2 separate regions of the Homo sapiens genome follow, and region 1 is linked to region 2. Evidence: fine-mapped expression QTL. Tissue or cell type: whole blood. Region 2 holds a variant in brackets; the other region holds the start of a gene. All regions are shown on one strand. Distances are from middle to middle.

The links. PIP is the estimated chance that this variant, and not a neighbour inherited with it, causes the effect.
Region 1: it holds the start of MMP25-AS1, and the variant in region 2 is fine-mapped to the expression of MMP25-AS1 in whole blood (TOPMed, PIP above 0.99).

What each region holds. Positions count from the first base shown.
Region 1 is chr16:3,058,210-3,060,709 of GRCh38, reverse strand. It overlaps MMP25-AS1 (MMP25 antisense RNA 1), which reads left to right and starts at 1,340. Exons shown (of 5, transcript NR_123723.1): 1 at 1,340-1,714; 2 at 2,008-2,170. MMP25 (matrix metallopeptidase 25) reads right to left here. Exons shown (of 10, transcript NM_022468.5): 8 at 2,377-2,500; 9 at 2,041-2,298; 10 at 1-1,883. The coding sequence ends at 1,612. LOC124900372 (sialidase-like) reads left to right here and starts at 1,340. Exons shown (of 3, transcript XM_047435000.1): 1 at 1,340-1,714. RefSeq lists an enhancer at 197-1,102 and silencers at 1,141-1,610, 2,071-2,120, 2,261-2,390, 2,421-2,470.
Region 2 is chr16:3,014,305-3,017,054 of GRCh38, reverse strand. It overlaps CLDN9 (claudin 9), which reads right to left. Exons shown (of 1, transcript NM_020982.4): 1 at 2,550-2,750. It overlaps CLDN6 (claudin 6), which reads left to right. Exons shown (of 2, transcript NM_021195.5): 2 at 1,013-2,343. The coding sequence starts at 1,034. The coding sequence ends at 1,696. Among named protein-coding and RNA genes, the nearest start is that of CLDN6, 2.5 kb to the left of the region's middle. RefSeq lists enhancers at 1-64, 1,284-1,848 and a silencer at 2,705-2,750. The variant A/G (reference allele first, on the strand shown) is at 1,075.

The DNA.
Region 1 (2,500 bases), 44 kb before region 2:
TTATTGTCCTGAGTGGGATGAATAAGTTTCTAATATACAAATTTCCCCCTCCTCATACATGGAAAAGAAACTGACAGAGGCCCAAATCGTTTCCTGGCAGCCCAGAATTCCCAGGTAACTGACCAAAGTCTCCTGCCTTCTGTCCTCATGCTGATCTGTTTGTATGAGCAACTGGGGCAACCCCTCGCATGGTTGCTGGGACAGCCGCCCACAGCCTCAGCTCCAGGAAGCACTAGGGGGTCACTGAGGCTGGACAGCAACTTAGGAAGTGGCCCCTAAGTGACTCTACCCATGGGGTTCAGGCCATCGGTGTGGCCTGAACATATTGGTCCTGGGGTGGAGGAACACTGCAGAGCCACAGAAATGCCACGAAACAGCCAGCTACTGCCCCCCACAATCCCCGCGACTAGTTAAAATGCAGATTCCTGACCCCACCCTGAGTGAGGATTCAGGGTGAGTGTGGGATCTGCAAACTTAAATTTCCCAGTGATTCTGATGTGGGATAGTCTAGAAGAATAGTTCCAGAGGCAATCATTTAGATCCTAAAACTGTGGGGAGTGGGGACAGGGTGAACGAGGTGCCCCCAGGTTCCACCCACCCCTCACTCTAGAGCTAAGGCCTCCCAGGAGGGAGTGCTGAGGAGGCAATGACCAGGCCTGAGCCAGGGTTCGGTCCCTGTCTTTCCACCAGCGTTGAGTTGATGGGAGTCAAGCTGTTCTCTCCAGGGTGCAAGCAGGGAAGGGGTTCTTGGGGATAGAAGGGTTCCCCATTGAATGGAAGGCAGTTCTGGGCCCAGGGAGGTGCCCAAGTTGGGTGGCCTGGGGAGGAGGAGGTGGGTGGCGGGGGAGCAACGGAAAAGGTTAACAGCCTGGAGAGCAAGGGTCGTCCCTCCAGCCACTGATTCCACCACCCAGGACGTGGCGCATGGGTCCTCAGGGGTGATATCTGGGCTGGTTCCGGGTCTGGGTCCCAGGTCCCCACCAGTGTGGCAGTGACTGTAGGGGGGCCTTGTGGGAGCAGAACGGGGTGAGAAACTGCGGGTGGGAGAGGGGCAAGGCACAGCTTCGCAGTCAGGCCTGTCCTCTAACGACCCAGGAATGCCAGACGCAGTGGCCAGGCGGGGCGGGGCTGCGGAGAGTCCCAGGACTGCGCTCCGAGAAAAGCTGGCTCTTCCTGGAAAAGGAAGGTCCTGCGGGGCCAGCGCGCGACCGGGGCTGCCGTCCCTCCGGGTGAGGCCGCGGGCCCGCCCCTTGTCCTCCCCGCCCCTCCCCGGGCTCGGGAGGCGGGGTCCGACCGCCCCCTGGCGGCAGCCGGGAGGGAACGACGGGGGCGACGACCGACGCATGGTCCCAGCGCGCGTGCGCCCCTGAAGGCGGGTTCCGGTGGCAGCGCCGGGGTCTCAGACCCTGAGGAGACTGAGCCCAGCGCCAGGCGACCGGTCCCCGCCGCCGCCGCCCCTGCGCGGGAGATCCCCCCTGCTTAGTCCGCGCCCGAGCCCCCGTCCGTGGGAACAGACAAGGGGCCTCCGCAGCGCCTCACAACCCCCGACCAGGTCCAGCGGCGGGGGACTCGGCCGTGGAGGGCGCTGTTCGGTCTGGATGGCTCCCCCCATCAGCGGGAGGCTACACCCCCCACCAGCAGGGGCAAGAGGAGCAGCGGGATGGGAGCAGGCCAACGTCCTGCGGCCTGGTTGAGCTCGCACTGACAATCGCAGGTTTCGGACACGGGGGTCGCTTTGGGGGGCCTGGGGGCGCGGGGACCAGAGCTCGGGGCGGGGCAGTCCAGCCAGTTGGGCCCCATGGGCTGGGGGGCGTCCGGCTCGGTCTTGATGCTGTTCTTGGGGAAGCGCCAGTAGTGGGCGCCCTTGAAGAAGTAGGTGTCACCTGGAGGAGCAGAGCTTGAGTCCCGGTCCCTCCCCGCCCCGCCGCTCCCTGATGCCCAAGGACCCCCATCCCCGCAGGGTGGCCTCCATGTCCCCATTCCCCACATCCCTCTCCCCACCCCCAGGCCCAGTAACCCGCAGGTCACCGCGCTCCCCACCTGCGTTGCTGACGGTGACATCGTCAGGGGAGGGGGGCGCGCCTTCCCAGAGGCTCAGGTCGCGAGGGTAGCCGGGGTCCGGGCGCGCCGCCGCCTCGTCGTAGCGCCAGTACTGCCGGCCGCGGACCAGGTAGGTCTTCCCGTTCTGTGGCCACGAGAACACGGCGTCCACCTCCTCTCCCGGGGGCAGCCCCAGCTCCGTGAGCGGCCGCGCCCCGCCCTCCAGCTGCCGGTCCTGGAACACCCAGAACTGGGGCCCTGCAGGGTGGAGGCCGGGAGGTCAGGGGTGGGCTCCCCGCGCCGGCCCCAGCGCGCCCCGCCGCCGGCCCCACTCACCGCTAAAGAGGAGGATTCGGCCGTCTCGGTGCCGAGCATAGGCGGCCTGCACCACCCTCACCTGGGCGGGCAGCCCCTCCCAGAAGCGGTGCAGCCGTGCGGGTCGCGGGGACACCAGCTGTCC
Region 2 (2,750 bases):
CAGCACTTTGGGAGGCTTGAGGCGGGCAGATCACCTGAGGTCAGGAGTTCGAGACCCGCCTGGCCAACTTGATGAAACCCTGTTTCTACTAAAAATACAAAAATTAAGACCAGGTGTGGTGGCTCATGCCTGTAATCCCAGCACTCTGGGAGGCTGAGGCGGGAGGATCACGAAGTCAGGAGATCGAGACCATCCTGGCTAACACAGTGAAACCCCGTCTCTACTAAAAATACAAAAAAATTAGCCGGGCGTGGTGGTGAGCGCCTGTAGTCCCAGCTACTCGGGAGGCTGAGGCAGGAGAATGGCGTGAACCGGGGAGGCAGAACTTGCAGTGAGCCGAGATCCCGCCACTGCACTCCAGGCTGGGCGACAGAGCGAGACTCCGTCTTAAAAAAAAAAAAAAAAAATTAGCCGGGCGTGGTGGTGTGCACCTGTAATCCCAGCTACTTGGGAGGCTGAGGCAGGAGAATCGCTTGAACCTGGGAGGCAGAGGTTGCAGTGAGTGGAGATGGCACCACTGCACTCTAGCCTGGGCCACAGAGCGAGACTCCTCGTCTCAAACAAACAAACAAAACAAATGGACAAGTTTTGAGCCTTAAACTCAGGGCTAGAATTGAACCATTCTACACGGAAACTGCTTGGAAATCGCACCGTCCTGTCATCCTGCTTTTTGCCGCCTTGCAGCCTGATCACTGGCTCTGGCCTTGGACTGTCATTGTATAGGTTTCATCCTGTTATCTTTCATTTGCATTCAGGATAGCCAGGGCAGGGCTGCTTGCACAGTCACTGTCATCAGCCAGTGCCTGTCACATAACTAGAAAGAATAATAAATGCTAAAGCATTAAGTGTCCATTTTGCCCACGAGAAGTGAGGCTCAGGGAGCATGTCTTGACTGAGTTCCAGGATGTGATGACCACTTTCCAGGGTGCATGCCCCTAGAGTCCTGTCCACATGTGGCCTGAGGTCTGGGCCTGCCAGGCCTCACCTTGTTGTGCTTCTGTCCCAAACACAGTGCAGCTCCTTCAACCTCGCCATGGCCTCTGCCGGAATGCAGATCCTGGGAGTCGTCCTGAC[A/G]CTGCTGGGCTGGGTGAATGGCCTGGTCTCCTGTGCCCTGCCCATGTGGAAGGTGACCGCTTTCATCGGCAACAGCATCGTGGTGGCCCAGGTGGTGTGGGAGGGCCTGTGGATGTCCTGCGTGGTGCAGAGCACCGGCCAGATGCAGTGCAAGGTGTACGACTCACTGCTGGCGCTGCCACAGGACCTGCAGGCTGCACGTGCCCTCTGTGTCATCGCCCTCCTTGTGGCCCTGTTCGGCTTGCTGGTCTACCTTGCTGGGGCCAAGTGTACCACCTGTGTGGAGGAGAAGGATTCCAAGGCCCGCCTGGTGCTCACCTCTGGGATTGTCTTTGTCATCTCAGGGGTCCTGACGCTAATCCCCGTGTGCTGGACGGCGCATGCCATCATCCGGGACTTCTATAACCCCCTGGTGGCTGAGGCCCAAAAGCGGGAGCTGGGGGCCTCCCTCTACTTGGGCTGGGCGGCCTCAGGCCTTTTGTTGCTGGGTGGGGGGTTGCTGTGCTGCACTTGCCCCTCGGGGGGGTCCCAGGGCCCCAGCCATTACATGGCCCGCTACTCAACATCTGCCCCTGCCATCTCTCGGGGGCCCTCTGAGTACCCTACCAAGAATTACGTCTGACGTGGAGGGGAATGGGGGCTCCGCTGGCGCTAGAGCCATCCAGAAGTGGCAGTGCCCAACAGCTTTGGGATGGGTTCGTACCTTTTGTTTCTGCCTCCTGCTATTTTTCTTTTGACTGAGGATATTTAAAATTCATTTGAAAACTGAGCCAAGGTGTTGACTCAGACTCTCACTTAGGCTCTGCTGTTTCTCACCCTTGGATGATGGAGCCAAAGAGGGGATGCTTTGAGATTCTGGATCTTGACATGCCCATCTTAGAAGCCAGTCAAGCTATGGAACTAATGCGGAGGCTGCTTGCTGTGCTGGCTTTGCAACAAGACAGACTGTCCCCAAGAGTTCCTGCTGCTGCTGGGGGCTGGGCTTCCCTAGATGTCACTGGACAGCTGCCCCCCATCCTACTCAGGTCTCTGGAGCTCCTCTCTTCACCCCTGGAAAAACAAATGATCTGTTAACAAAGGACTGCCCACCTCCGGAACTTCTGACCTCTGTTTCCTCCGTCCTGATAAGACGTCCACCCCCCAGGGCCAGGTCCCAGCTATGTAGACCCCCGCCCCCACCTCCAACACTGCACCCTTCTGCCCTGCCCCCCTCGTCTCACCCCCTTTACACTCACATTTTTATCAAATAAAGCATGTTTTGTTAGTGCATTTGGTGTTGCAGCGGGTTACTGAGTGCCCACCCTGGCTAGGGGAAGAGATGGGCATAAGTGAGTCACGATCCCCTCTCCCCGTGGCTTGAGTGAGCATACCCACCAGGCAGAACCTAGAGCCAGACCTTGGCCTGACAGCCACCAAGGGAGGCCACCTGGCTGTGCCTGCCCAGCCCCAGCGGCGGCGCACAGATTAGAGGGAGCCCAGTTACAAATGCTCTTTATTTCCAACTCGAGGGTGGGGATGTTGGGGAGAGGGAGGTGATGGGCAGGCCCTCCCTGACAACTCCAGGGTTGGGAGGGCATGGTCTGCTCCCTGGTTTTGGAGCCAACGAGCTGCTGCTGTTTTGGTGAGGCCAGGGTTCCTGGGGCAGGGGAGGGCTCAGAAGAGAAGGAAGGCCAGCC